Homo sapiens: one gene and its partners. The protein of the gene in region 4 purifies or fractionates together with the protein of the main gene of each other region. This does not show direct contact. Each region holds a gene or a part of one and is shown on either strand. Other genes may lie near its edges. The genes, in order: DDX46, SAFB, ESF1, PEA15, DCAF13, HABP4 and MAP9.

Region 1 (4,634 bases), on a different chromosome or scaffold from region 4:
AACATGGAGAAACCCCGTCTCTACTAAAAATAGAAAAATTAGCCAGGCTTGGTGGTGCATGCCTGTAATCCCAGCACTTTGGGAGGCCGAGGCGGGCAGATGACCTGAGGTCGGGAGTTCGAGACCAGACTGAACAACATGGTGAAGCCCTGTCTCTACTAAAAATACTAAAAATACAAAAATAAGCTGGGCATGGTGGCGCATGCCTGTAATCCCAGCTACTCGCGAGGCTGAGGGAGGAGAATCGCTTGAACCCGGGAGGCGGAGGTTGAGGTGAGTCGAGATCGCACCATTGTACCCCAGCCTAGGCGATAAGAGCAAAAGTCTGTCTCAAAAAAAAAAAAAAACAACAAACAAGCAAAGAAAACAAAGATCATTATTAATACATACCTGCATCATAAGTTCATTTAGATCCTAATGTACCTTGAACATACTCATAAAAATCAAATTTCTATTGTTATATCCTCCATTTAGGTAAAGAGTGAAGGAGCTATTAAAATGTTCATGGGTTTTAAAGATGAGATTTTTCCTCCAAAGAAGAGTTGCTACTTCACAATAAAAAAAGGTTTAAACCTGTTACTTGCCTGTGGGAAGTCATTGATCTCTAATTCTTCTTCATATCTCTTAAAAGATTCATTCTGTCCACCATCCTGTCTCTCTTCTTCTTGTTTCTCTAACGGCACATAATTGAGCTTGGCATTGATCTTTTCAGCAAGTTGTTCTGCAATGGTTTTTGCAGAAACAGTGGGAGCCAGAATGGTGCCACCCCTAAGAATTGCATTGGTGGCCTGCTGCATCACATCCTGTAGTTAAAGAAGACTTAGTTAAATCTCAAATGAGGGCAGAGACAAGAGTAGGGACCACACCACAAATTATTCTCTGAAAAGCTACTAACTTTGTATGCAAGTTTAATAAATAAACCTTTCTAATGCATAGTCTCATTGATATGTGTGATTTAGCAATATATATTTATAATGTAGTTTAATGTACCTCCTAGTGGATAAGAAAACTGGAGAACATTCAACTCTATTAAATATTCTACTAGATCATAGAGATGTAGTTGATAATTAGCTAACTCTTGATGTCAGACACAGTAAATATTTCGAAAATCATTTGCATACTCTAATTCCTAGGAGTCTCCTCCGAATTTGAATGTTTGTACTACTACCATCACTGAGCTCCTTCATCTCTATGACCCAACCCAACATTACAAACGTTATAGTTAATGACTGCCTCAAAAGCTTCAAAATAACAAGTAAGCTTCCAAGAAAAAGATAACGTGAAATATTTAAAAATCACATTTCTCCACTGTTTAAGACCATATTGATTTGAGTCATGTAACTGGGTGTTTGTATATCCAGGGAGTTGTGTGCCCAATAAAAGCAGATAAAGAAAGAAAAAGAGAATTATTAATACATCTTTAAGATTTTGTTAAGACTCATCAGAATACTACCCTATAAAACTACCAGTGGCTAACAGTTAGAAATTCCAGAATAGGCCCAAAGTCCTCAGTCAATAGCACTGAGAAATCATCCAAATGCAATTATCAAAAAATTCTGTATTGAGAATGTTAAATTCTCACAAACTCAATGTCTAGGACAACTTGTTTACTTGTGTTCAACATAATTCCTGAAAAGTAAAATCAAAGAACTTCTTAAAAGTATTGACTGAGACTTGGAACAAATTACTTAATACCTGAGACTCGATGCCCAAATTCTTCTGGGCATTGATTCTAAGAGCCAATCTCTTAGCAATTTCTAATTTCTCAGCATTTCCTGCAGTTGGAGCAGGAACACTTGATGTTCCAGGAGCAGCCATATCCTTTACTCTCTTCTTTGAATTAAACATGCTTTCAATTTGCTCATCAATCTAGATCAAAAGGAAAAAAAGGACTAGTAAAAAACTGAATTAGAAATACCAAATTAAGTTATTCTACAGAAATAAATAAGGAATGTTTCCACCAAAAGGCTGGAATCAGATAGTTATATTTACACAAATCCTACTACACAGATCCATGGGAAAATATACCACCTATTTGTTAAAAGTCACATTTCATTTAAAAAATCAGTTGTCTATGGTAGGGAGAAAAATAGAAAACAGAGAAACAACATTGCATGAACCACGTCATCAGACTCCTGAGAGGACCAGAAACTTCATCCCTGTTCAATAAATGAGGAAACATGTGCTTTCAAGACAGAATAGCCAATAGGATGCAGCTGACTTACCCCAGGGCTCAGGCCTTGAGACCAAATTATACTGCAATGAAACAGGCTGGAAGAAGGACTATAACTCAAGGTCAGTGGCCTACTAAAAATATAGTCAATAATTCTCAGGGGGAGTGATATAACATGTTCCTAAGGTAAAGCTCTCAAAACTCTTCCCAACCCATAAAATCCAATTGGATTTGCCTTAAAAACTGGGTAACTGAACCAGAAAAGGCTTATTCCCTTATTCCTTTGAATCAAGAAAGGAAACAAATGCAGGTTGTTTCCCCATCAAGGCAAGCGCAATGATGAATGCTTTGCTTTGACAGGAGTCACATGAGCCCTACTGCTAGGTGCATTTCTTTTTTTTTTTTTTTTTTTTTTTTTTGAGACAGAGTCTCGCTCTGTCTCCCAGGCTGGAGTGCAATGGCGCCATCTCAGCTCACTGCAAGATCCGCCTCCCAGGTTCACGCCATTCTTCTGCCTCAGCCTCCTGAGTAGCTGGGACTACAGGTGCCCGCCACCACACCTGGCTAATTTTTTGTATTTTTAGTTGAGATGGGGTTTCACCGTGTTAGGCAGGATGGTCTCATCTCCTGACCTCGTGATCCGCCCACCTTGGCCTCCCAAAGCACTGGGATTACAGGCATGAGCCACCACCGCCAGCCTGCTATGTGCATTTCTTTTAAAAAATGCCCTTTGCCCAACAGTGACTACTGATATCACTGATTACAGAAATACAAGCCCCCTTCAGAAATTTAGATCAGATTAATAAAGCTGTATCTTCTAGATCTCAAATGCACAGAAAAGCTTATTTAGGGCTTAAAAATTAATTGGTTAATTTACAAAGCTCTTTTACTACAATAAAAACAGTCCGTTTAGCTTTTGTATTTTTTTGAGACAGGGTCGCCTTTAACTCCCAGGCTCAAGGGTTCCTCATATCTCGGCCTCCCAAGTAGCTAGGACCACAGCGTGCACTAGCACGTCCAGCTAATTTTTAAAAACCTTTTTATAGAGATGGGGTCTCACTGTGTTGTCTAGGAGGGTCTTGAACTCCTGGGCTCAAGCTATCCTCCCACCATGGCCTTCCAAAGTGTTGGGATTACAGGCCATGAGCCACCACACCCAGCCTTAGATTCTTCTTAAAACATTTATTACCTATTAAAGGGTTTTAGTTATGGCCACGCACAGTGGCTCCTGCCTATAATCCCAGCATTTTGAGAGTTCAAGGCAGGAGGATTACTTGAGCCCAGGAGTTCAAGACCAGCCTGGGCAACATGGCGAAACCTTGTCTCTACAAAAAATATAAAAGTTACCCAGGCATGGTGGCACATGCCTGTAGTCCCAGATATTCAGAAGGCTGAGGTGGGGAATCACCTGAGCCCAGGAGGTCGAGGCTACAGTGAGCCAAGATCACGCCACTTTACTCCAGCCTGGTTGATGGAGTGAGATCCTGTCTCATAAAAACAAAACAAAACAAAACCCCAAGAAAACACCAACAGGGGGTCAGTTATCAACTAGTTTTAAAACTCAACATTTACCTGAGTAAAACCGTTTTAAATTAAATAGCATTCATGGTATTACAATCTGAACAAATTCATAAAATCAGGAAAGGGGGAAGTATACAATGCTAGCTGGTAGAGCTAACCTTACTTTTGATTTTATTCGTGTTAAGTACTGTTTACATTTTTCATAAAATTATATATTACTTTAACACCCGAAGAAACAATCACCGTATTTTATCACAAGATTTTAAAAAACAGTTAAAAATACTGCAGTTTTCCCTTTACACATGGAATACATTCCAAGAACCCCAGTGAATGCCTAAAAACAGAGATAGTACCGCACCGACATACACTGTTTTTTCCTATACATACATACCTATGATAAAGTTTAATTTATAAATTAGGTACAGTTAAGAGATTAACAACAATAAAATAGGACAATTATAGCAATATACTGTAATAAAAGTTATATGAATGTGGTCTCAAAATACTGTAATAGTTTCAGACTGTGGTTAACCTATGGCAACTAAAACCACAGAAAAGAGGAAACTACCATAATGTCAAAAAGTGACAGATGTTTTTAAAACATGGCTACAAATTATTTAATAGTCTTTTTTCTTGAGTGTGGGCTGGACTTAATGACTTCCTTCTAATAGAAGAAAGTGGGCTGGGCATGGTGGCTCATGTTTGTAATACCATCACTTTGGGAGGCTGAGGCAGGAGGATCACTTGAGCCCAGGAATTTCAGACCAACCTAGGCAACACAGTGAGACCTCGACTCTAAAAAAAAAAACATTTTAAAATATATATTAACAGGGCATGGTGGTGCACCCATAGTACCAGCTACTCAAGAGGCTGAGGTGGGAAGATCGCTGAGGCAGCAGTGAGTTGAGTTCGCACCACTACACTCCAGTTTGGGCAACAG
Region 2 (4,634 bases), on a different chromosome or scaffold from region 4:
TTTTTTGAGACGGAGTCTCGCTCTGTCGCCCAGGCTGGAGTGCAGTGGCGCAATCTCGGCTCACTGCAAGCTCCACCTCCCGGGTTCACGCCATTCTCCTGCCTCAGCCTCCCGAGTAGCTGGGACTACAGGCGCCCGCCACCACGCCTGCCTAATTTTTTGTATTTTTAGTAGAGATGGGGTTTCACCGTGTTAGCCAGGATGGTCTCGATCTCCCGACCTCATGATCCGCCTGCCTCGGCCTCCCAAAGTGCTGGGATTACAGGCGTGAGCCACCGCGCCTGGCTGCAGACCCTGGTTTCTAATAGCTCTCCTCAAAAGGGCCCAGGGCACCTGGAAGAAATGGCTGATTCCGGGGAAAGGGCAGGAAAAGCATAAGATGAGACTCACGTACCCTGCCATTCCAGAAGGTAAAAAAGTATCCCAAGAATGGCATGAACATGTGGAAATGACAGGGGAGCCTGTCTGACAGGGTTCCCAATGGAACGTTTTGCACATTGTAGTAAATAAGCATAAAGGCTTTCAACCTATGGAATAAAATAATCTAAGTTCACACAGATAAATGAGGGCAAAGGGCAAGCTATTCCTTATGTCAGTAAACCAAGTAATAAACAAACAATAACAAAATTAAAAAATCACCATTTGGCAACTACCAGAATAAATGAATAGACAGGAACTGGTGGTTGCTAAAACTAATGGACGATGAGCAGGATATTTACAAAGTCTCAGAGTATCTTCCCCACAAATGTAACTGTGAAAAGGAAGACAGTAACTTTCCAGTGGAGAAACCTGGCCAATAGCATTTGAAGTCAGCTAACATGGCCAATAATGGCTCAAACTGACAGCATGTGCCTCTGGATAGTATACTCTGATGACAATATAGGCTGGGCGTGGTGGCTCATGTCTGTAATCCCAACTCTTTGGGAGGCCAAGGTGGGAGGATCGCTTGAGCACAGCAATTCAGGGTTGCAGTGACCTACAATTGCACCATTGCACTCTGGCCTGGGTAACAGGGCAAGACCCGGTTTCAAACCAAAACAAAACAAAAAACAGGAATACAACATGTCTGGTGTATTTCTGACAAGCGTATAACTTGATCCTTATTATGGGGCGGGGAGAACCCAAAACAATTCAAATAGAAAAATAAACTACAAAATAAGTGTAAGTGTTCAAGATTAAAGAAAACTAAGGAAACATGACAACCTGATGCAATGCATGACTCTGGACATTTTTTGTCTGAGTTATAGAGAATATTATTGGAACAAACTACTGAATCTAAATGAGGACTAAGACGAGGTGGCAGTATTGTATCAATGTTAATTTCCTGATCTGGACATCTACAGTTAGGTAATATCCTTACTTTACTGCAGTACGTAGGGCAAAGGGGCATATGCGCCTTGCAACTTACCATGCGGTCTAGTAAAAACATACATACAAGGAGAGAAAAGGACAAGGCAAATGTAGTCAGATGGCAATATTTGGGGACTCTGGGTAAAGGGTATATGGGAATTCCTTGCATTATTCTTGCAACTTAAGTATGAAATTGCCAAAATGAACAAAAACTGAACAAAACAAGCCAGCAGCAAAGGATTGGGTAATACTTAACCAAGCAAACAGGCCAACTTTGCATCTCCAGTTACAAAACATTCTCAAACACCATAAAACATCCTATTAATTTGTACTTTGTGATGACACTACAAATAAATTTAGTTTCCTGGTAATTATTTTATTTTTTCGAGACAGAGTCTTGCCCTGTTACCAGGTTGGAGAGCAATCACAGCCCAATCATGGTTCACTGCAACCTCAAATTCCTGGACTCACGTGATCCTCCCACCTCAGTCTCCTGAGTAGCTGGGACTACAGATGCACGCCATCACATCTGACTAATTTTTCTAATTTTTTGGAGAGATGGGGTCTCACTATGTCACCCAGGCTGCTCTCCAACTCCTGGGCTCAAGTCATCCTTCCGCGTCGGTGTCCCAAACTGTTGGGCTTACAGACGAGAGCCATCTCGCACAGCCCCTGATAATTATTTTGAGAGTCTGCTAAGATGGTGAGAGTCACGTCATGTGGAATGTGACTTTTGCTGTATAAGCAGTTTTTAAAAAAAATGTTAAAGTGACAATTCTGTTTTGGCCAAGTGCTGTTTAAAAGGGATGTCATTTTCTCCAAGTCCAAGCAATAGGAGGAGAACTGAGATTACATGAGATATGCTTTCTGGAATTTTAAAGCATTTTGAATTCACACATTACAGCAGTCCCTCTATTTTCAGTTAAAATCTTGATAAAACCCACTGATAAAGTAGTTGAAAATAATTCAAGAAAACTTACCGACCTGCCCTATCAGATATCAAAATGTACTGTAAATTTCTAGAATAAAACTGATTACAAGAAGCAAAACAAAACAACAAATGAGACACAAAAGAGCTAGTATTGCATGGCTCCATTTTACATGAAGTTCTAGAATGGGTAAAACTAATATCTGGTGAAGTAATCACAACAGCGACTTTTATTTTTGCAGGGGCTGGGAGGGGAGACGCACTGGGAGGGGCAGAAGTGATCTTTCTGATGACAAATGTTTCTTTTCTTTTTTTTTGAGACACAGTCTTGCACTGTTGCCCAGGCTGGAGTGCAGCAGCATGATCTCAGCTCACTGCAACCTCCGCCTCCCAGGCTCAAGTGATTCTCCTGCCTCAGTCTCCCGAGTAGCTGGGATTACAGGCATCCGCCACCATGCCCAGCTAATTTTTGTATTTTTAGTAGACGGGGTTTCACCATGTTGGCCAGGCTGGTCTCGAACTCCTGACCTCAGGTGATCTGCCCGCCTCAGCCTCCCAAAGTGCTGGGATTACAGGCATGAGCCACCACGCCCAGCCTAAATGTTTCATGTTTTCATCCCTACCTACCTCACACCACATGCAAAATACATTCTAAATTAATTAAACCTCCAAATGTAAAATGTAAAAATAAAACCATAAATATTATTCTTTCTATATATAACAGAGTTATACATATAGTTTTTTTTTTTTTTGAGACGAAGCTTCACTCGTCGCCCAGGCTGGAGTGCAGTGGCGTGATCTCGGCTCACTGCAACCTCTGCTTCCCGGGTTCAAGCGATTTTCCTGCCTCAGCCTCTCAAGTAGCTAGGATTACAGGCGCTTGCCACCACACCCAGATAATTTTTGTATTTTTAGTAGAGACAGGGTTTCACCATGTTGGCCAGGCTGGTGTTGAACTCCTGACCTCAGGTGATCCACCTGCATCGTGGGATTACGGACGTGTGCCACCGCACCTGGCCTTACAGTCATATTTTTAATAATTTAAAAGCAAAGAAGTCCTTTTAAAGCGTAACATAAAATCTAGAAGCCTAGTGATCAAAATACCACAAGTCGAATCAGATTAAATTGAATGACAGATTAAAACAATAGAAACATTTTATATGAGTCTTTATAACTCAATAAGACAAACAACCCAGCACAGAAATCGGCAAAGGGCATGAAAAGGCCATTCAGACGACACAAATGTCCAATTATCAGAAGAGTATAATCTGTGAAGAAATGCAAACGAAAATCTCACCTGCAGAAAAATGCAGATAAATACAATGAAATACTTTTCTTCTATATAACAGGCAACAAGGTAACAGGCAAACAAGGTAAGTTTGATGTTGAGTTTAGTGAAATAGGCACCGTCACCCATTGTTGGTAGGGTACAACCTGGGACAGCTTTTTGTTTTTGTTTTTGTTTTTGAGACAGCCTCACTCTGTCGCCAAGGCTGGAGTGCAGTGGCACTATCTTGGCTCAATGCAACCTCAGTCTCCCAGGTTCAAGCTATCTTCTTGCCTTAGCCACCTGAGTAGCTTGGATTACAGGCGCCCACCACCACACCTGGCAAATTTCTGTATTTTTAGTAGACGTGGGGTTTTGCCATGTTGGCCAGGCTGATCTTTTGATCCGCCCACCTCAGCCTCCCAAAGTGCTAGGATTACAGGCGTGAGCCACTGAACTTGGCCGGGACAGCTATTTGTAAACTAGCTATGTGAAAATAAAGGGCCATATCCTTGGAGTCTAGAATTCTCCTTTCACTAAGTTATCAAAAATTATATTACTTTGACCACACAAAGGTATTTATCTCTGGTTCGTGCAAACACTGAATGTTGGAAGTACCGAGTGATAATTGGAAATAAAAATCTCCAAACGTCTAGTAATAAAAAGACTGATGGGCTAAATTGTGTATTTATTCATACAGAAGATTATTAGCCTGTTAAAAAACAGTGAGATTTTGTATAGCAAGATCACGGGTTTTTTTAATGAAAAAAATATGCATACAGGTGTGTGCACATACCTATATATTTACTTTTTTCCCCCTCTCACTCTGTGCCCAAGCTGGAGTGTAGAAGCACACTCATGGCTCACCGCAGCCTTGACCTCTTGGGCTTAAGCAATCCTCCTACCTTGGCCTCCCTAGTAGCTGGGACTACAGGTGTGTGCCACCATGCCCAGCTCATTGACTTTTATTTAACTTTTTGTTTTTCTAGACACAGGGTCTTGCTCTGTAACCCAGGCCTAAGTTTACTTTTAAACATTGTACATACACACACAGTCTGGAGAAGTATGCCTAACTTTTAGTAGTGGGCT
Region 3 (3,682 bases), on a different chromosome or scaffold from region 4:
AAGGACCACAGGTATGTATCACCACACTTGGCTTGTTATACGCACGCGTGCGCGCACACACACACAGACGTGTATATATATATATTTTGAGACAGGGTCTCCTGTTGCCCAGGCTGGAGTGCAGTGGCTCAATCTCGGCTCACTGTAACCTCTGCCTCCCAAGTTCAAGTGATTCTCCTGCTTCAGCCTCCTGAGTAGCTGGGACTACAGGCATGCACCATCACGCCCGGCTAATTTTTTGTAGTTTCGGTAGAGATGGGGGGTCTCACTGTGTTGGCCAGCCTGGTCTTGAACTCCTGACCTCAAGTGATGTGCCTGCCTCAGTCTCCCAAAGTGGGGGGATTACAGGCGTAGGCTACCACACCCAGCCTATGGTCTTACTATATTGCCCAGGTTGGTCTCAAAACTCCTGGCCTCAAGCAATTCTCCTGCCTCAGCCTCCCAAAGTGCTGGGATTACAGGTGAGAGCCACCTTGCCTGGTCAGTAGGTTTGATTTTTAATACCCCAAATGTCAAGTTTAACCACAAACCTGGTCAAATTCCTGTTGTCTTTCAGAAGTTACCATATTTATAATTTGCTCCAAGTTACAAGTCTGGTTTTATTTACATTTACTTATACAGCATATCTAATTTGACTGTCAGTTGTCTATAATATTTAGACCAGATGAGATCCAAGAGTGTTAAGGCCTTAAAGATGTGTTTTAATTTTAAGAAGAATTAAGGTATCCTTAAACTCTACAGCAGCATATCCATCCTTCTAAAGTATTCCAAAAATGTGAAGGACAGACAGAAGACTTTTCTGTTGCTACCAAACAGAAAAACCACTGGAGAGCTCATGAATATTTCAAATGCAATTTACGAGCAATGCAACTCTAGAACTGCCTTTAAATGGAGTTGTCCTCTTAAAAAGTTAAAATCGGTTTTCAGATATTTTTCCAGAGAGTACTTTGAGATGCATAAAATGGAATAAATCAGTGCTATACAAAATAATGAAAATATTTTACACTTTTATTTACAAGTTAATTTCATAAACTATACTTAACATGACTAAACAACAAAAAGTTCTTGACTTCCATCCTTTATGGCTAGAAAAATAAATTATTTTAATAGTTATTTAAACATGCCTCCTGCTTCCAGAGAAATTAATGTATTAAATATATATATTTTTCAAATTATCCCTAACATTTACACAAACTTGAGTAGATACTGCTCTATTTTTACACAGAATTGTAAACAGCCTTTTAAAAAGCTAGAGTAACTTTCCACTAGTTAGAACTGAACATTGTAAAATATAAAAATTTTATAAACCCTATAATGCAGGTAATTTAATTATGACTGATCTGTAGGAATATACAATAAAAATTTGTCAGTCATCCACAATTAAGTACAATTATTTATGGAGAAAAATTTTACTATGTCCAGAAAAAGATTTTATTCATGTTCTTGAAAGATAGCTTTGTTCCCAATAAATATTCCCTCCTATTATTTTTGTACATTTTAGGAAAAGATGTATTCAGTTCAAAAATAAGTAACATCCAGTTATTTGACTTTTTGCTTTTTTCTTGCTTGAAACTGCTCTGTTTTGGTTTTTATAGATTTAATCAACATTGACAAAGCAGGATCAATGGACTTCCTTTGTGATTCCTTTTCAATCTCACTCTCTTTTTTCTTTATTGCCTGAGTAAGTTCTTGTTCTTTCCGTTCTCTTTGCCGGGCCTTCTCCTCAAGGATTTTTTCCATAGCTTTTGTTTTCTTGAAATTGGGATCTGAGGGGTCCAAATTGAACAAGTGGGAAGTGTACATTGCCTGAAACCGTGCATCGTTAACATTTACCTGCAAATCCAAAAAAAAAAAAAATTAATAAATTAATTAAACAAAATTACTAAAGCAAAAGGCCAGAAATGGGGCCAAATTTCGAAAGTTGGTGAGTTGATTATATAAAATACAAACCTGAGTGTTTGTACTGATTCATTAGGAAACTGTTTTTCCATAGCTCTTTATGGCCTACCTTTGGACCACAACTTGTGGGGCACCCTGTTCTTATCATGCAAGGACAATGTATTTCAAAGGGAATTATAGTGGGCCATACATATACATATTATGGCCGGTAACTACAACGACCACTTAGACAAAATGACTGTAGCAGTGGTTTGTGAGGCAGGGCTTTCCCATGCTTACAGCACAAAATCAATTTCTTACCAGCATAAATAAGCCAATCAGAACATCTGCTGGAGGCCCTGAACTCTGAGTACATGTTAAGAAATTTTAATCTTGGTGCCAAAATAAGGAACTATTGAAGGTGATCCATGGATCAAAAGATTTAAAGACCACTATGGCAAATAATCCATCTGAGATCAAGGTCTGGTCAGACACAAGCCCCAGATTTATCTTCTTTCTATAAAAACTTGTGGTTCCATGTTTAAGAATATACCCTTAACTGCAGCCAGCCTTTGAGGGCTGCCAGGCAGATGGGTAACCAGCAGAAAGGGAAACACACGAAATACAAGTCCACCTGGAGATAGATTGTAGCTTTACTTAGTTATCACGAGGCCAAGGGATTTGATACCCAGAACAAGGAAAAAAATCCTGTAAAAAATACTTTTATGCATATATTAATATATGAAGGCAGAATGACTACAAATCATTCTTTGCTTTTCATAAGGAAAGTAACTCAATAAAAACCTAACTGGAATGGGAGCATATGTGAAACTGACTCAAACAACAGAAGCTACAGAGTAGCCCCCAAATCCTTCTATATGCTACTTAGAAGCCATCTGTATGCTACCCTCCATTGTTTGAACAAATTTAAAATTTCCCAAATTTCCCCCATCTTACTCAGGGTCAGTTCTTCCACATTAATGGTTGGAAGTCATTAAGCAGTTTCTAACAGCTGTTTGTAGATTTTTGGTAGACGGCTCAAACTCATGCTTAGGGGACTCTGCAGCCATTAGGAATATGTACTCAACAAAAAGAGGAAGGAGTAATGGAAACAAAAAACACAGCAACTGAAAAAACATGGCTTACTGCGCTGGCCACTGCACACAGTGAGTGTGACCCACTGTGACATGAACCTGCTATTCAAGCATACCTTTGCTGGTCTGAGGATCACTACATGTGATTCTAACATTAAAAACTACACATTTTTGGTACAATATGGCTACCAAAATACAAGTCAACTATTTCACCTGGTGCTCAACCAAAGAAACAATGATTTCATCCACCCTAGGATGAACTGGCTGTGCTGGATTAAAAGACAGTAGCCTTTGGCTCCACCATCAGTCTTTCTGAAGACATTTTCTTTTTTTTTCTTTTTTTTTTTTTTTTGAGACAGGGTCTTGTTCTGTTGCCCAGGCTGGAGTGCAGTGCCACAATCATGGCTCACTGCAGGCTTGACCTCCTGGACTCAAGCGATCCTCCCACCTCAGCCTCCTGAGTAGCTGGGACTACAGGTGTGCGCCACTATACCTGGATTTTTTTTTTTTTTTTTTTTTTTTTTTTTTTTAGACAGAGTCTTGCTCTGTCACCTGGGCTGGAGTGCAGTGGCGAGATCTCGGCTCACTGCAAGCTCCGCCTCCTGGGTTCACGCCATTCTCCTGCCTCAGCCTCCTGAGTAGCTGTGACTACAGGTGCCCGCCACCACGCCTGGCTAATTTTTTGTATTTTTAGTAGAGATGGGGTTTCA
Region 4 (4,634 bases):
CCCTCATCGGTAAAAAATGTTATTCAGATACTCCTGTGCTATTATCACATATACAACAGAACATAAAAACAATCTAAAAATAGTAAAATTTTAAGTGGCAAAAATTGGGAAGAATTCTAGACAATAAAAATGGAAGAATACCTGAATGAGGGGAGAACTCGAAGTGTAATCTAACTGGTAAATAGTAATACTAATCTTTGTTAAGCATTTTTTAAAAACTGGTAAAATTTAAAACTACAAGTTCTATCATTTTCTTATCCACTTTGAGAGACTACTGCTTGGGGAGTGGGATCTATGGATTAGAGTAATCCCTCACAGCTGGAGGCTTTAGGGAAGAATTGGTGTTTAAGATGGCCCTGAAAGGTGAGTGGGATTTCTAAGGCAAGATCCAAAGGAGGGCATGCCAGGCAGAGGAACACTGTCACAGAGTATCTAGTGTGTTTGGAAATGCAATCAGTCCTGCTTGGCTTGACTAGGATGTAGGGTGTTTAGAAATGGCTGGGAAGGTAAGGTAAGACTGTGTTGTAGAGAGCCTGGGTATTGGATAGGTGAGGTGAGTGAACTCAGGGCCCTTCAGATATACTATTCTGACTGCTGTGTGGCTGGCAGGGAGAACGTATAAAGGAGGACGTGTTACAGTTAGACTGTATGGCAACAGTCAGAGGGGAGGAGCCAGGGAAGAAGGTCTAAGGGCATCTATAATCTCCTGGAATTGGCCAAGCCATGGACATCGTCCTTCTGGTGGTGTCCATACCTTCTCTCATTTAGAATAACCTTTCTCACCAGGCCCAGAATCTCTCCTGGGTTGCCTAGAGATTCCACCCTGCTGGTCCTACATGTGCTGTCAGCAAATTCTGATACTTACTTGGATGGAAAGTGGAAAAGGATGGGGGTGGGGGTGGGGTATCTGGAAGTCAAGTTGATTTTTCTTTTGTCCCCTCCCCACAACATATGGGAGCTAGTATCTAAGCTAAACCCCTCATTCTAACCACAATCTAGAAACTTCACTGACCAACTATCTGCCCTTCCTGCGAACAGTCCTCTGTATTGTTGTTTGGGTACCTTAGCTTTCTTCTCCTGGATTAGTAGCCCCTCTTCCTCCAGTGTTGTACCCTCCCATAACCAATGTCAGCAACTCAGCTTTGGTTCCAGGTCACTAGTCTGGTGGAGTAGGGGAAGCTGACCTCTACAGCCTAGCTCTGACCCTATCTCCTGCCTTCCTCCAGACAACCTCTCCTACATTGAGCACATCTTTGAGATCTCCCGCCGTCCTGACCTACTCACTATGGTGGTTGACTACAGAACCCGTGTGCTGAAGATCTCTGAGGAGGATGAGCTGGACACCAAGCTAACCCGTATCCCCAGTGCCAAGAAGTACAAAGGTAAGCGGCCACTCCTTTAACTAGCTGCACCTCTGCCTCGTCCCGTTGACTATCCTTGGAGTACTTGAGTTTTGGGAGAGTGGAGGCAGATGCCCAATGGGCCTGCCTGGCATCTCCCACACTGCTGTCCCTGGACACATACCTTTTTGCCCCCAGACATTATCCGGCAGCCCTCTGAGGAAGAGATCATCAAATTGGCTCCCCCACCGAAGAAGGCCTGAGCAAGGGGGAGGAAGAGGAGGAAGGTTGGACCTTCATCAGACCACTCCCTTCCCCCATCCTCCAGGAGAGGGGGCAAGGGCAACCCACCATCTACCCACTTACTAACCTGGTCCTAACCCCCTTACTGTGCGCGTGTGTGTGCGTGTGCGCACGCTCTGGCTGTTTGTCTATATGTCTAGCTCATCTAGTTCCTCTTCTTAAGGGGATGGGGGTCAGGGGCTAGGGGAGGGGGCTGAGTTTCCCCACTTTAGGAGGAGGTGGGGGCTATTTCTATGCAAATAGAAATCAGCACATTCCTCCTACTTCCCTTTCCTCCACTCCCCCCATATCTTTAAAGTGTGGAAGCAGAAAGGACCTGCATTTTCCTACATTGAGGAGCTGACATAGGGGTAAGGTATGGGAGAGGTAGGTGGATCCAGGGAAAAGCAGTGGGGACGGAAGGCAAAGAGACCACTCAACCCCCACCTGGAAGGGGCAAAGAAAAGCCAGAGTTCCATGTTTGTACTCCTGTGCTGGACTGTTTCCTGAGTACCAGCAGGTCCCTTTTTGTCTCTCATGGGCCTAGCATAGGTATGAGCCAGGGATCCTTTCCTGGTCCCTAAGATCAAACCCCATGGAGCAGCCAGCGTTAGATGCCCCCACCCACCTGTACTCTGGAGAGACTGTGCTGGGAACATGTACCACTGAGCCTGAGATGGGGATGAGGGCAGAGAGAGGGGAGCCCCCTCTTCCACTCAGTTGTTCCTACTCAGACTGTTGCACTCTAAACCTAGGGAGGTTGAAGAATGAGACCCTTAGGTTTTAACACGAATCCTGACACCACCATCTATAGGGTCCCAACTTGGTTATTGTAGGCAACCTTCCCTCTCTCCTTGGTGAAGAACATCCCAAGCCAGAAAGAAGTTAACTACAGTGTTTTCCTTTGCACCGATCCCCACCCCAATTCAATCCCGGAAGGGACTTACTTAGGAAACCCTTCTTTACTAGATATCCTGGCCCCCTGGGCTTGTGAACACCTCCTAGCCACATCACTACAGTACAGTGAGTGACCCCAGCCTCCTGCCTACCCCAAGATGCCCCTCCCCACCCTGACCGTGCTAACTGTGTGTACATATATATTCTACATATATGTATATTAAAACTGCACTGCCATGTCTGCCCTTTTTTGTGGTGTCTAGCATTAACTTATTGTCTAGGCCAGAGCGGGGGTGGGAGGGGAATGCCACAGTGAAGGGAGTGGCAGAATCAAATTGCTACATAGTCCAAACAAAAAAGAAGGCTTTTTCAAAAAACATTAAATTCACATGCAGTCTCAGAGACTATTTAGACAAAGTTCAAGTTAGGAGCTTTTAGGATGTGGGAGTAAAACTTTAATGGGAGGGGAGGGCTGGCTGCTGGAAGAAGGAAGAAGCCAGACTGGTTAGACAGTACTCTTAACTCCTAGCCCAGCCTAGCGTGCCCTGCCCCTCTGGCCACTGCTGCAGACACCTGCCTTAACACACACACCTCTAGGACTCCACAGTTTTGCCTTAAAGGACCTTCCCAAGTCTCCCTTTCCCTGTCTGGCTTCTCCCTTAAGAAGAGAGAGATACTTGTAGAATTGGGTGGGGGGAATGAGCATGAACTGTCCTTCCATTTGGGATATGTTACATTAGAGTGAGAGAGAGAATAAGGAGCCTTTCTTATGGAAGAAATGGGAGAAGAGAGACAGGGTTCTTTTCAGCAGAGTCTAGTAGTTTCTCTGTAAGGCAAAATAATCTAAAAAGACTAACCTGCCCACCCACTCCTTATATTGCTGTGAGATTGCCCCTATCTTGTGCTCTTCTGTCTGCAGTGTGCACGGCCTTGTTCTAACCCGGAATAAAGGTGATTGATTGTATTGCAACTAACTGATTTTAAAATTTCTGTGAGTGACCAGGATTTTGCAGGCTTTGAATCACTGGGAAGGGAGGGGGAACAATATTTATGGCCCAGAATAAGGGCTGGGAAAATACCCCAAGTGTATACCCTCACCCCACCCAATCTCCTAAGTATCACTGAGCTAAATGGAGTGTATCCTACTTCCAACAGTCTCCAATTGGAGCCCAAGCACTGGAAATACGGGTCTCCCAAAATGGACTTTCTAACACTGTATCATGTGCAGAATGAGAGGGGAAGGCTAGGTACCTACATTAGTAGGAACAAAAACCATCCATTGTGAATAAATGGACCACATACCACACAGAGCAGCAGTCGGGAGAAGAAAAGCTTTACTGGGAGAAAATACAACAAATTCCAGAGTGCATGGTTTTTAGCCCACCCTATCACCCCACCAGCAATAGGAACACAGACCACTCGATCACCACACATTCCCTACCTCAGGGAGTAAGTACAGCAGCCAACATCTGGTCTCAGAGCTGCTGGGAAAAGGGGCAGGAGGAAGAAGTATCTGGGAATACCATTCTCTCACTCTTTTCCCCTCCTTCCTGGCCTGATTTAGAAGAATCTGACTGTCCCAGGATACAGAATTCTTGGTTGGATCTTGTGGAACTGGGGGCAAAAAAATAGCAGCAAAAGCACTTAAGGGCAAGAATTCAGCTGGGACTTTCAGACTCAGTGACCAGTGATAAGACAAGTGCCCAAGCTCCAGCCACTGTAATCAGTCCTTAGATTAATGACTTATTCCTCAATCCTAAAATATCAAGAGGTGGACAAGGTTTAAGTCAAACCCAGGAAGTCTTTCCCTTCACTCTTCTATAAAGAAGGGAACTGGCATGAAGTTGGATGGCTTAATGATCAAGCAGCTAAAGGTAAGAGAGACAGAGTGAGAGAGTGTGTATGTATGTGTGTGGTGTGTGTGTACATGTCTTCTGTCACAAAGTACCACAATAGTCTGCAGTGGTGGCACCACCCTAAAGTAGTTAAGTTTTAAAGACAGGCCAGCCTCTGGTTAGAAGAGCCATCCTTGGAACCCCCTACAAGACTTAAGGAGAGGTAGGAGATCTGAGGCAGAGCTGAGAGGAATTTCCTGTTTTTCCCAACCCCTACACC
Region 5 (4,634 bases), on a different chromosome or scaffold from region 4:
CTCCATAGCCTGGCCCATCCATTTTCCACTGCTTCACAGTTTTGTCATCACCAACCTAGAAATATTTGTTTTATTATGATGATGGTAAGGAACAACAGTTATAAATTAAAACTTGCCAACACATATCAAATAAGTATCTTGTTTAAAACAGGTAACATACCATATCATTCCAGTATTACACTTATTGATCCATTTATATCCCACCTTGTTTTAGTAAAGATTTGTGACAAATACATAAAGTACATAAAACTAAAAATATAATGAGTAGAGCAAAAGAAAAACAAGAACAGGGGCAAAGTTAGGTCATGCATATTGTGATAAACATGGCATTTCAACTTGGAGAAAAAATGGATTATAAAAAATGGTATTATAATATCTGGTTAGTCATTCAAAAAAATTGAGCCAATTTGATGCCTTATGTGAAAATAAAATTCCAGGTAATTTTAAATGTAAAAAATAAAATGAAAAACATGAAAATACTGGAGAGAAGGCATTGTTATAATATTGAAATAGATAAAGTCCTTTTCTGCATGAACTGCAGAAACTACTAAGTCAGTGGTTTTCAAACTGTGAACTTTGGGCCTCTGGAGGACCCTGAGAACTTTTCAGGGTCCACACAGTCAAAACTATTTTCATAATGTTAGTAAAGACATAGTTTGTCTTTTCACTGTGCTGACAGCTGCACAAATAGTAAAAAAGCAACAGTGAGCAAAACTGTTGGCACGTTAGCCCAAATCAAGGCAAAGCAACAAACTATGGTAATTTAGACATGGGTATTTGGCAGACATGTTTAAGCTATCAGGTGAAACAGACTACAAAACAGAACATATAATGTAGTTTGAGGTTGAAAACAAAATCATAAATGTGGTACTGTATAACTGCATACATACAAAACTGCTAGTTTTAACTTAAAATCTTACATTTATATATTAGATGCAATCTATATCCACTTTTTGATAAAATCATTAACAAAGATATCTTTATCTAAGGGAAGAGTATGAATGTAGCTCTTTTCTTACAGCAAATTCAAAAAGGAAAACGCTTCTTGCAAAACAGTTTACAGTGCCCATGAGATGAAAACAGATAAGTGATCAGGAAAGGTTTTGGTACTAAGATTACACAGCGATGTCTTTTGTTGAGGATGTCGATGAACAGAATCCTTAACTACATCCTTGTTATAGACAAAAAGTATTTAATAGGGCTACATCTTATTAACAACTATGAATCTGAGCCACTGGCACTATACTAAAACTCAATTCTAGAAACCTGATTCTACTGGGAGACTAAGATGTAATCTAGGTACCAGGTCTTGACTGATCTGGCTTGACCCAAAGAGACATTTTAGCACTTACAGAATACAGGATAAACTGTGTCCCTGAGCACCCCGTTCCTGAAGACGCTATCCCTCCATCAAGTTTCTGATAGTGTCTGCAAGCTCAAGACTGAATTTGCTTGTAAATGACCAAGCTGTTCTGCCGTCTACTGAGTACAAACCTCAGCGGACCACCAATTCTGGGAAGGGTTTTCTCATTTTATAGAAATGAGTAGCCGAACAAGAATATGTGCCTGGCTAGAACATCTCATCTCCAGGCTGGTTATGCTGAAGAAGGAATTGTTGGTATTACAAACTGGTATATCTTAGTGAAGTTTTAGGTAATAAAAGTTTATGTTTTGCAACACTGTGTACTAAAATTTTTAAAAACATTCTTAAAGTTGTACCAGCAAGTAGTCTTCACATGTGTCTTATCTCTGACAAAGCACACATTACTCAAAAATATCTTTTTGGTTGGGCATGGCGGCTCGCGCCTGTAATCCCAGCACTTTCAGAGGCTGAGGCGGGTGGATCACTAGGTCAGGAGATCGAGACCATCATGGCTAACACGGTGAAACCCTGTCTCTACTAAAAATAAAAATAAATAAAAAAATTAGCCGGGAGTGGTGGTGGGCACCTGTAGTCCCAGCTACTGGGGAGACTGAGGCAAGAGAATGGCGTGAACCCGGGAGGCAGAGCTTGCAGTGAGCAGAGATCATGCCACTGCACTCCAACCTGGGCGACAGAGGGAGACTTCATCTCAAAAAAAAAAAAATCTTTTTGAAAAACCGAGAAACAATAAGGTGGGCATGGTGACTCATGCCTGTAATCCCAACACTTTTTGGGAGGCTGAGACAGGCTTGAGCCCAGGAGTTCAACATCGGCCTGGGCAACGTAGCAAGACTCTGTCTCTTTAAAAAAATAAAGTGGGGGGAAATAAGTGGTGAATATGAAACATTTTCAGTCTTTATTCATTTCTTAAAATGTTTTTTATTTAATTTACAAATAAAAGATATATATTTATGATGTACAACATTGTGTTTTGATACACGTAGACACTGTGGAATGGATAAACCAAGCTAATTAACATATCTGTTACCTCACATACTTATTATTTTGTGGTGAGAACATTTAATTCACTTTCATAGCAATTGTCAAGAGAGCATGTTGTTATTAACTATAATCACAGTGTTGTACAACATCCATCCCATCTATTTGAAATTTTGTCTCTTTTGACCAACATCTCCCCAATCTCCCTCCCTCAAAGCCCCTAGTAATGACCATTTTACTCCATTTCTAAGAGTTTGGCTTTTTTAGATTCCACACAACTGAGATCATGTGGTATCTGTCTTATTTAACTTAGCATCATGTCCTCCAGGTTCATTCATGTATGCTGCAAGTGACAGGATTTCCTTCTTTCTGAAGGCTGAATAGTATTCCTGTGTGCGTGTGTGTGTGTACTTTTTTTTTTAAAATTCATTCATCCATTGCTGGACACTTTAGGTTGATTCCATATCCTGGGTATTGTGAATAATGCTGCAAATGAGCCTTTATTCATTTTAAGCATTAAAAAAAAATACACTAAGTCCTCTGGCTGAGCTATTAATCAATATATCCAAGAGAATAACCAAGTGTAAGAAGCCTTAGGTGCCATCCATTCCCACTTGCCAATCAATTCCTTGCACAACACTGGGCTTGCAGGGTCAGGCAGCTTATCTGCACCCCTCTAGTGAAAAGTAACTGAATGCTTTGCAAGGTAGCCTATTCTGCTTTTTGACAGCAAATAAGTTTTTTTTTTTTACACCAAAACCGAATCTTTTAACACTAACACCTATTTCCAGTGCCTCTCTATGGAGCAACAAATTAGTCTATTTTCTTTTTCACATGACAATCTTTCAAATTGTAGCTATCAGGTTTCCCAGAAGTCATCTTTTCCCTTTATTATTCTCTTGCAATCTAGCTTCTGCACCCAGCCAACCTGGATTGCAACCTACATTTTATAACTCAGCTCAACCTGTTTTTTAAAAAGTCACCAGTAAATAAAGAATAAGGAAGATCTATTTGACTGATTAGCGCATGTGTATACAAAAACTGTTGTATAGGTAGGTCAAAACACTTGAAAAGACATACACCAAACTAATAGTGTTAGAAGTGAAAGACTAGAATTATGCAATCTTTAATTTTCTATTTTTTACATCTCTACATTTCTAAAATGTTTTCCTCAGTCTTCATTTTTCATTATTCTTTGTAGTAGTTCACAAAACTGACTATTCCTTCCTCCTAGGACACTATGCTCATTCACAGATTCTTTGAGCTCTGGCTACTCCTAGAGTTTTCCCACTTCCCAGAGGTGGGCATTCCCCAAGGCTACTTCCTTGACATCTTTGTATTTCTATATTTTCCTCCTCATTTCCTCCCAATGATGCCATACTATGGCTTCAATGATTAGTTCTATATTGATGATGTCAAGTTCAGCTCTGACCTCCCTCCTGAGCTCCAGACCTGCATCTGTAAAGGTATGACAGACATCTTCACTCGAACAGCCCATTAGCAGTCCAGTTTGTCACATCATATCCTTCCCATTGCCACCCTTCAAAACTTGCTGGTACTCCTCAGCAACAGGAACCAACCTCTTCCCAGGCACCTCTCAGTTGTCAAACCTGTCAATCCTCCAAAGTATCAACCACTGATTTCTAGTTTTCAGTCTCCATAATAAGGTAGCCTCTTATTATTGCCTGCCAAACTATTAAAATGGCCTTCAAACTGATCACTAACTGCTGTCAAATTACTTAACTCAAAGCACAGCTCAGATTTTGTCGTTCCCCTTGTTTAAAAAGACTTTCAATGAACTTGAATTGGTATTTGTACACCAATGGTCACGGCAACACTATTCACAATAGCCAAAAGGTGGAAACAAATCAAATGCTCATTGATGAATGAACGGATAAACAAAATGTGACACATACAATGGAATGTTATTTAGCCATAAAAAGAAAGGAAATTCTGACATGTACTACAACATGGATAAACCTTGAAGACAATTATGTTAAGTAAAATAAGCCAGACCCAAAAGCCTTATTCCACATACACAAAATGGTATAATTCTTTAAAATATGCTTCTATTTATATGAGGTACCCAGAATAGTCAAAATCACAGAGGCAAAAAGTAAAATAGTAGTTACCAGGGGTTGGGGACTGAGGGGACAGAGGAGTTATTGTTTAATGACTATAGTTTCAGCTGGGGATGATGAAAAAGTTCTGAAGACAGATGGTGGTGATGGTTGCACAGTGATGTGAATGTACTGGATGCCACCAAACTGTA
Region 6 (4,634 bases), on a different chromosome or scaffold from region 4:
TTCTGGAGGGCATGGCTGCTCTCCGAAGTACTCTAACATGGACAGAAGTCGTGGGCTGGTGGAGTGTTGCGTCGCTGCTTAGTGATGTGGCAGCATGGTGGCCACCGCACTCCACCTCAACACGGGGAGGGGTTGTGTCTTATGTTTGGCACTTGCTGCTTAAAGTCTTTGTTTAATCATTAAACCTGTTTATGTTAAACAGAAACAAGTAGTGAATCACATTTCAAGGAAAATAAAGTTAAACAAGCTAAGGAAGACTAGAATAGTGAACAGTTATATGTCAAGGGAGCCATTTTTCCAAACTCTTTCTGCTTCTTGACTGCTAATTCCATTCCATTTAGGATTCTGGCTACAAGTTTTAACCAAAAAATGTGGCTTTGTAAAACTATACTATAGAGCCTATTAAAAACAAAACAAAACAAAAGTCCAGCAGAGAGTAACTTAGCCTGGGTGGGCTGAGCAGGTGATGACTCATGCAGAACTGTTCACCTGGAAGTTACACATTCAAGACATTGAGATAGTCTATCTGCAACCATGTTGGAGGGAGAAACTTACAGAAAGCCTTAATTTTGCACCTTTTTTGGTGATTACTTCAAATCTGCTGTGTAGTAAGCACAGTCTCCTTGTTTCTGCAAAGCTTCTTGTAGCAGAGCTGCTTATTTTTGGAAGCATTTGGGTATTTATTTTCCCCTCACTTTAGGGATTCTGTGGAAATGAGGAAATTATAGTTCACTTGCACAAACCCATGTTTCCCCCCTTTTTTAGTAGCAAGACTGTGTAGTCTTTAAAAAGGATAAAATAGATCTTTATATGTGACATGAAAAAATAGCTATTAAGTGAAATAATACATATATGGAAGAGTAAGGTGGGATATGGAATTATGGAGGGGTTTTTTAATTTAAATAAGGTCAGAATTACAGAAAAGTTTTAAGAATTATACGAAGAATTTCCATCTGCCCTTCGAGACCCCCCACATACTAACTGTTTACCACATTTGCTTTATCATTCATCCCCCACCACACCACACAGCCTTTCTTTGTTATTTGAGAATAAGGTGTAGGAATGTCCCCTTACTCCTAAATACTTTAAATGCATTTCCTAAAAACATGATACAATTTTCAAAGTCATTAAAATGAATACAATACTGTTACCTAATTCTCTAAATTACGGAGTCTACAGACTTTACTCAGATTTCACCAATTGTCCCAGTGATGTCTTTTCACAAAAGAGAAAACATTTCTGCTTCAGGATCCACTCCAGGCAAATGCATTGTATTTAGTCATCTTTAATTAGGAACAGCTCCTTAGCCTTCCTTTGTCCTTATGAATTTGACATGTTGTAGAGTATGAGCCAGTTATTTTATAACATGTCCCAGATTTTGAGTTTTTCTGATGTTTCCTCGTGGAATGAGGTTACGCACTTTTGGCAGGAATGCCACAGAAGTAATGTGTTCTCAGCGCATCGCAGTACAGATATGTAGGGGATTTTCACTTTCAGGGAAATCTGAATCTTGATATCAGAAAACATTTTCTTAGTTTCTTAAAAAATACCCTCAATAAATAATACTCTTAACTAATAATAAAAACACTCTTAATAAATAAAACATATAAAGTTTTATTTGTGACAAACTCACAAGCAAAAGGAAGGAAAATAACATTTGAGCCAAGCATCCTGCTTTATAGACTTGTGATTCACTGTCTTACAACAGTCCTAGCAAGTAGACATGATGCCTGTTTCACAAGTGGGAAGCCTGAAGCCCATGAAAGTATGAATGAGGAGTTCAGTGTGGATACCAAGTTTCAGTTTGAAAACATAAAAAGTTCTGGAGAAGAATGGTGATGATAGTTGCACAACAGTGTGAATGTACTTAATGCCACAGAACTGAACACTGAAAAATGATTAAAATGGTAAATGTTATGGTATGTATATTTTACCACAATTTGCTTAAAGCTTGTTAATAATGGGGGGAGGGTAAACATCTGAGGGATTTTTTTTTTCAGAACAGGAATTGATTTTAAATGACCAGTAAACTACAGAAAGGAAGAGCCAAAATTCATCTAGACAGAGGCAGACTAATCTCCTAATAGTCTGTTCTAAGAGTTCAGTTAAGTTTATTTGGAGCCTAAGGAAAAATTCCTACTGCATTAAAAACAGTAGTTTACTCCCAGAATATGTGCACCACATGATATAGCAGATCTCGGGGGCGGAGACATGCCCGTTAATCCCAGCGCCGTTTATGACATTGCTTCCGTGGGAAAACACGTTCTCTGCCTGGGTAGAATAGAAATCCATGGCAGCTGGCTGTGACAAGACTACTACACACATTGCTGAAACTCTGGGTCTGTTTTCTCATTGAAAAATGGAGAGGGCTGAATTTAGATAATCTTTCGAGATTATAAAGATTCTATAATTCTGTCCAATAAACATGTATAGGTATTAAAGAAACTCAAGGTGACACCCTTTTTCACTATCAGATGAGCAAAGATCAAATTTTATCATATTCAAGCTTGGGGAAAGTGCTATAAGAAATGCTCTTGGCGGCACAGTGGCTCATGCCTGTAATCCCAGCACTTTGGGGAGGCTGAGGCAGGCAGATCACCTGAGGTCAGGAGTTCAAGACCAGCCTGGCCAACATAGTGAATCCCCGCCTTATTAAAAATTCAAAAATTAGTGGGGTGCGCCTGTAATCCCAGCTACTCGGGAGGCTGAGGCAGGAGAATCGCTTGAACCCAGGAGGAAGAGGTTGCAGTGAGCCGAGATCATGCCACTGCAATCTATCCTGTGTGACATAGTGAGATTCTGTCTCAAAAAAAAAAAAAAAGAATTTGTAGGTTGGGCACAGTGGCTCTCACCTGAAATCCCAACACTTTGGGAGGCAGAGGCAGGCAGATCACCTGAGCTCAGGAATTCGATTCCAGCCTGGCCAACGTGGTGAAACCACATCTCTACTAAAAATACAAAATTAGCCGGATGTGGTGGCACACGCCTGTGATCCCAGCTAGTCTGGAGGCTGAGGCAGGATAATCGCTTGAACCTGGGAAGTGGAGGTTGCAGTGAGCCAAGATTGTGCCACGTCACTCCAGCCTGTGTGACAGATGAGACTCTGTCTCTAAAAAAAAAAAAAATTGCCAGGCGTGGTGGTGCACAGCTGTGATCTCAACCACTGAGGAGGCTGAGGCATGAGAATCACTTGATCTGGGAGTCAGAGGCTGCAGTGAGCTGAGATTGCACCACTTCACTCCAGCCTGGGAGACAGAACGAGACTCTGTCTCAAAAAAAAAAAAAAGAGAGAGAGTTTACTGTTGGCTGGGCACAGTGGCTTATACCCGTAGTCCTAGCACTTTGGGAGGCCTAGGTAGGCGGATCTCTTGAGCCCAGTAATTTGAGACCAACCTGGGCGACATGGTGAAACCCGCATCTCTACAAAGGGTAGTTAGCCGAGTGTGGTGGCACATGCCTGTAGTCTCAGCTGCTTGGGGGACTGACATGGGAAGATTGTTTGAGCCTGGGAGATCAAGGCTGCAGTGAGCAGTGATTGGGCCATTGCACTCCAGCTTGGGCAACAGAGTGAGATACTGTCTGAAAAAAAAAATTACTGTTACTTTTCTTTTGTTTTAGAACTGTACTTTAGATTTCTTTTTTTGCTCTGTTTCCCAGGCTGGAGTGCAGTGGCAGGATCTCGGCTCACTGCACTCCTGGGCTCAAGTAATCCTCCCACTTCAGCCTCCTGAGTAGCTGAGATTACCAGGCATGCACCACTATGCCTGGCTAATTTTTATATTTTTTAGTAGAGATGGGGTTTTGCCATGTTGCCCAAGCTAGTCTCGAACTCCTGGGCCCAAGCGATCCAACTGCGTTGGCCTCCCAAAGTTCTGGGATTGCAGGAGTGAGCCACCACTCCTAGCCTGCTTTAGTTTTTTTATTTTTATTTTTAAGACAAGGTCTCGCTTTGTTGCCCGGGCTGGAGTGCAGTGGTGCCATCTCGGCTCACTGCAACCTCTGCCTCCTGGGTTCAAGCGATTCTCCTGCTGCAGTCCCCCAAGTAGCTGAGATTACAGGCGTCCGCCACAACGGCCGGCTAATTTTTGTATTTTTAGTAGAGATGGGGTCTCACCATATTGGCCAGGCTGGTCTCAAACTCCTCACCTCAAGTGATCTGCCCGTCTCGGCTTCCCAAAGTGCTGGGATTACAGGCGTGAGCCACCGAGCCCAGCCTGCTTTAGATATTTGCTATAGTTTAGGATCAGGTTTTGCTTTAGATATTTGCTATAGTTTAGAATCAGGTTTTGGTTACAGGAGGTGGGAGACAGAAAAGCCAACTTGGAGAATTTATTTAAGTTGTGTTTCTTATAAGAGACTGGCATGACGTTAATGATCAGTACTTCTGTATTTCTTTATTTTTTGAGTAAGGAAGATTGCGAGTTTTGTATACTTTTACCCACTATTGTATAGCGGTTTCTTAATGTAACACTTTTAGCCATAAAAGTAGATTGTAACATACCTCTACTGCTGGTGTTTGAGCTACTAATGCCACTAGGTTTCTTGATGCCAGGACCTCCATTAAATAAGTAATTTCTTGTGATTTTAAATGTTTTTAAAAGCCTTTCCAAATTAGAAAACATTTATTAAACTAT
Region 7 (4,634 bases), on a different chromosome or scaffold from region 4:
CTACAAATGCATTTTTCTCAACTTCAAAATTGGTCTAATTAACATCTTCCTCCCATTTACCTAAAAATGGGCTTATGGATTCTGCCAGAAGATTCCACAACCATACCAAATTGGTATTATTATAAGTAGCTGACAATTTTAGCTACATCCTAAACTCCAGCCAAATGTTCAACCCCAAATCCAAGGGCTCTAGATTCCTCCCTCTATTATCCCCTAAATCCAGAGTATCAATATATCCTATCAATTCTAATTGCCAAATATCTCATTTATTCCACTTTCTACATCCCTGCTGTCGGGTCCTTATCCACTCTTTCCTAGATCACTGCTTCCATGATATTTACAAAATCCAAATCAGATCACATCACTCCTTTCTACAAAATTATTCAATGGCTCCCCATGATCCAATCCTACAGAATAAAAGCTTAACTGCCTTTAAACAACATAAAACGGATTTTATGGTTTTGTCCTTCACTGCCTTATCTACAGCCATTTTGTCATCTGTGTTTCTGAAATGCTGGGCTAACAGTTGTCATGCACACATACCACAATCCCTCCAATCCCTCCTGCTACCATACCTTTACCTAAGCTGATCCCCCTGCCTAGAATATCCACTTCCTGCTTCTCCTCCTGACAAATGCTTGCATGTCTTTTGAGCCTCAGTTTAAGCAGAATATTATATAATGCCTGAAAGAAGGTGTTGAGTCAATTTTTTTTATTATTGTGGTAAGAACAAACATGAGATCTACCTTCTTAATACATTCAGTGCAAAAGACAGTACTGTTAACTATAGGCACAATGTACAGCAGATCTCTAGAACTTACGCATCCCGCATGACTGATACTTTATACCTGCTGAGCATGTTTATAAACAAACGCTAAATAATAAAATGAATAATCAGAACATTTATAGAGTGCTAAATTTATGCCAGTACTATTCTAAGCACTTCAAATATGTGAACTCATTTAATTGCCTCAAACTCCTAGAGGCAGGCAACTATTATCCCGTTTTTAAAGATGAATAAAATGAGAACAAAGAGGTCTCATGCCCAAAGTCACAAACTCTAGCAGGCTGCAGATCTCAGATTAAAGGAGAAGCATCCTGACTCCAAAGTTCATGATTTCAGTCATGTTAGTATTAAAATAAAAACATATCCTGTGAAAAATACTTTCACTTTATAGAGCAACTGTCACTTCAGTAGTGACTATAAAGTCTGGTTATTATACTTTTTACAAAAGACAAGCAAGGACAGAGAAAACCTTCAAGCTCTAATAGTTTCATAAAGCATTACTTGCTACTCAGCAATATCTCACCACATTAAAAACATTGAGTTCCAAACCTGTACAGAAAAAAAAAAAGTCAAAGAATTTAGAGGATAAACTCATGAACCATATTCCCTCTTTCAAAGATAAATCATTCATATATTAATTTATTCATTTAAATACTTATTATATATGCCAGATATTATCTTAGGAACACTAGCCTCAATTTTTACTTTTCAACCTGAAGAACCTGAGAATGACAACTTTAATATATTTTCTACAAAAATTCCACTTCCAGAAGTACTGTCAAGTTCCCAAAAAGAAAAAAAAATGCCTATACTTTAAGAAAAGCGCTTTTTTTGGTAATCAATGTATACAATTACCTATTTAGGTAATTATTTTTATATTACACGTACTGAATATAACATTGCATATATAAGTAGAGCATTTAGGATCCTGATGCCACCTTGTGGTTAAAATACAGTATTTTCTTATTCATTGTAACCCACCACAGGTTTTTTTTTTTTTTAAGGTATGAAATAGGTGGATTATTGCTTTCCTGATTATCTACCATAAACTTCTAATTATATACATCCACCTGTCTCAGACAAATTTTTAGTTGCTATATATGCTCGCATTTTCTTAATAACGAAGTTCAATTATGTTCCTCTTCTCTCCAGCATTGATTTCACTCACTATACTTAGAAGGTACATTTTAACAAGTTAATTGTTTCATTATGCATCTGTTTGCATTTTTGTAGTTTTTTATAGTTTATGAGATGCACTTCAATAAACTCTCACAATTTTGCAGGAATAGAAAGAGGGTTATTTTTAGCTTCCTCATCATGAGGATACTGAAGCTTAACTTATTTGCTGAAGTCATATATAATATACAGAGGCCTTTCCCCCAGTGTCCTGGATATTATTCTAGTGTTCTTTGCTCTGCTTACATCCTTTGCTCATTTCAAAGTTAATGAGATTGTGGGGTCAGGAAGAAAGGAGCAGTTCCCCAATACATGCCTGAAATAAAGTTTTGTCTGACGTTACCACTGGTATCTAATATGCAAAGTATGAAATATTTACCAGCACTGTATTTACTGATGATATGCAAGGAGATTTTTATGAAGGTTAACATCAACTAATAATTCCTTTATAAAATACAAAGAATGAAAAACAAAAAATCCTTAACCTTGCATATACAAGTTCATGAATGGTGGCCCAGGGTATGTGACAGGACTTGGTCTCCGTTTCATTCTATCTTTGTTCCTTTATGCTTAAAATTCAGTAAAATTGTGGGCAGAACTAACTGTAATCCCAGATCACACCAGGAACTTTCCTTTGGAAAACTGAATCTTAGTAGATTTTCATAGGCAATACAGAGATCAAATGGAGATTCTCTTAAGGAGTGCCTGGATGCTTCAACAAACAACAGCAGCAATAACATAACTCATCCTTCAAATATACAAATGTCAAGAAAATTTTCTGGCACAATGTTGGTATGGCAAAGACTGTTAGAAGGATTAGTCTCAATATTGCTGTAACTCTAATCTTTGGAGTGTGAGAGGGATTAGACAGCATTCCATTCCAGTTCCACACCTACAAACAAAACTGAAGCTCACAGGTCTAGGTGTCTGGAGATCCACAGCTATGGATGCTATGGATGACTAAAGGTGCTTTGGCTTTGTGCTTTGGCTTTCTATCAGGCAACAGCCTAGATGCAAGACAAAATACAACAGGTCTGTAAAATTGAAGTTAGACAAAATACAACAGGTCTGTAAAATTGAAGTTAGACAAAATACAACAGGTCTGTAAAATGGAAGTTAAGTCTGTCTTTTTTTCTTAAATATATACTAGCTACCATATAAAAATTTTGGGACTGATTATCTTAAAATAAACTTCCAAGAAATGCAATTACAGTAATCCTAACAAATTACCTGAAGATGTGCTTTTAATTGAAAGAATTCTGGGTTTAGGTTTCATTTTTATTTTGTCTTTTTCAAATTCCTCATCCTTATTTTGAGATTCAGAGAAAGATTTTACAACAATGTCTTCACACCCATCAGGTGCCATTTCCTCTTCATTTTTGATGGCACACACTGGCTCATCTTTGGTTATGTTACCGTTTGATTTATTGGTTTTCAAAAACAATAGTTTTGAAGGATTCTTTTCTTCATCATCTGATATATGAAAGTCATTCATTTTTTTATTAACTGAATTTTCATCTGCTGAAGTGTCAGAAAAATCACCTAAAGAAACTGAAAAATGGAAAAGAAAAATGTTTTCAACAGTATTTTTAAAAATTGTCAAGGTTACGTTAACTTAATCAAAGTTTACCTTAAAAGCTACAAACAAAATTCTAACAATGAATAGGCACAAATGTATTTTATAAATAGACTTGCAGCTCTAAAAACACAGCTAACTCAGGCACGTCTCATTAACATTTATGAAATAAAAATTCCAATTTCATTAATTTATTCAAAATGTATTTATTGTGTTGTCTGTAGGGTACCAAACAACCAAACACTGTTTGCTCTGGAAAAAGCCATCCAAAGGTCCCTAACAATCAGTCATGTAGCATTTAAATTAGATTATGGACTGTAAAACTTTTATTTGCAAATTACTTCTTCATGTAAAATCAAGAACATTTGTAAATGGAAGAATTTAATTAGTAATTACTAATTATATTTTTTCCATAAAAATTTTGGAACTACAATTCCATCCACACCAGAATATTAGATTTACTAAGAATCATAAGAAATGCTAAGTTAACTATACAGCAGTGATTTAACTGTGGTTATTACTGGTTTTACAGAAATCAATTACAATTATTCACCAAATTTTAAAGAATAAAACACCAGGCCGGGTGCGGTGGCTCACACCTATAATCCCAGCACTTTGGGAGGCTGAGGCGGGCGGATCACAAGGTCAGGAGTTCGAGACCAGCCTGGCCGATGTGGTGAAACCCCATCTCTACTAAAAATACAAAAATTAGCCGGGCATGGTGGCGGGCACCTGTAGTCCCAGCTACTCAGGAGGCTGAAGGAGGAGAATCACTTGAACCTGGGAGGTGGAGGTTGCAGTGAGCCGAGATTGCACCACTGCACTCCAGCTTGAGCAACTGAGCGAGACTCCATCTCAAAAACAAAAACAAACAAACAAAAACACCAAGTTTAGAATTCTGTATGCTTATACCTGAAACTAAAATGTTAATATGTTTACATAGCTAAGAGAAACCAAATTATAATAGTACTGATATATGAAACACGAAGAGTCTGTGGTTTTTAAATTTACCCCTTATCACAGCCAAAAAAAATCTGATTTATAGCAAGCTTTATAAAAGCACTTCTAATGTGCACCGAAGTTTAGTTCTGTGGG

What was found.
Region 1: the proteins of PEA15 (region 4) and DDX46 purify together in Homo sapiens (affinity purification with mass spectrometry; one large-scale study listed by BioGRID and IntAct). This does not show direct contact.
Region 2: the proteins of PEA15 (region 4) and SAFB purify together in Homo sapiens (affinity purification with mass spectrometry; one large-scale study listed by BioGRID and IntAct). This does not show direct contact.
Region 3: the proteins of PEA15 (region 4) and ESF1 purify together in Homo sapiens (affinity purification with mass spectrometry; one large-scale study listed by BioGRID and IntAct). This does not show direct contact.
Region 5: the proteins of PEA15 (region 4) and DCAF13 purify together in Homo sapiens (affinity purification with mass spectrometry; one large-scale study listed by BioGRID and IntAct). This does not show direct contact.
Region 6: the proteins of PEA15 (region 4) and HABP4 purify together in Homo sapiens (affinity purification with mass spectrometry; one large-scale study listed by BioGRID and IntAct). This does not show direct contact.
Region 7: the proteins of PEA15 (region 4) and MAP9 purify together in Homo sapiens (affinity purification with mass spectrometry; one large-scale study listed by BioGRID and IntAct). This does not show direct contact.

The regions. Positions count from the first base shown.
Region 1 is NC_000005.10:134,813,665-134,818,298, reverse strand, and holds part of DDX46 (probable ATP-dependent RNA helicase DDX46), read right to left. Parts: intron 1,870-4,634; coding exon 1,693-1,869; intron 804-1,692; coding exon 585-803; intron 1-584. UniProt on the Homo sapiens protein: Component of the 17S U2 SnRNP complex of the spliceosome, a large ribonucleoprotein complex that removes introns from transcribed pre-mRNAs.
Region 2 is NC_000019.10:5,629,151-5,633,784, reverse strand, and holds part of SAFB (scaffold attachment factor B1), read right to left. Parts: intron 1-4,634. UniProt on the Homo sapiens protein: Binds to scaffold/matrix attachment region (S/MAR) DNA and forms a molecular assembly point to allow the formation of a 'transcriptosomal' complex (consisting of SR proteins and RNA polymerase II) coupling transcription and RNA processing.
Region 3 is NC_000020.11:13,713,335-13,717,016, forward strand, and holds the end of ESF1 (ESF1 homolog), read right to left. Parts: intron 1,834-3,682; coding exon 1,540-1,833; 3' UTR 991-1,539; downstream 1-990. UniProt on the Homo sapiens protein: May constitute a novel regulatory system for basal transcription. Negatively regulates ABT1.
Region 4 is NC_000001.11:160,211,884-160,216,517, forward strand, and holds the end of PEA15 (astrocytic phosphoprotein PEA-15), read left to right. Parts: intron 1-1,226; coding exon 1,227-1,382; intron 1,383-1,538; coding exon 1,539-1,603; 3' UTR 1,604-3,489; downstream 3,490-4,634. UniProt on the Homo sapiens protein: Blocks Ras-mediated inhibition of integrin activation and modulates the ERK MAP kinase cascade. Inhibits RPS6KA3 activities by retaining it in the cytoplasm. Inhibits both TNFRSF6- and TNFRSF1A-mediated CASP8 activity and apoptosis.
Region 5 is NC_000008.11:103,421,477-103,426,110, reverse strand, and holds part of DCAF13 (DDB1- and CUL4-associated factor 13), read right to left. Parts: intron 56-4,634; coding exon 1-55. UniProt on the Homo sapiens protein: Part of the small subunit (SSU) processome, first precursor of the small eukaryotic ribosomal subunit.
Region 6 is NC_000009.12:96,459,340-96,463,973, forward strand, and holds part of HABP4 (intracellular hyaluronan-binding protein 4), read left to right. Parts: intron 1-4,634. UniProt on the Homo sapiens protein: Ribosome-binding protein that promotes ribosome hibernation, a process during which ribosomes are stabilized in an inactive state and preserved from proteasomal degradation.
Region 7 is NC_000004.12:155,369,943-155,374,576, forward strand, and holds part of MAP9 (microtubule-associated protein 9), read right to left. Parts: intron 3,515-4,634; coding exon 3,194-3,514; intron 1-3,193. UniProt on the Homo sapiens protein: Involved in organization of the bipolar mitotic spindle. Required for bipolar spindle assembly, mitosis progression and cytokinesis. May act by stabilizing interphase microtubules.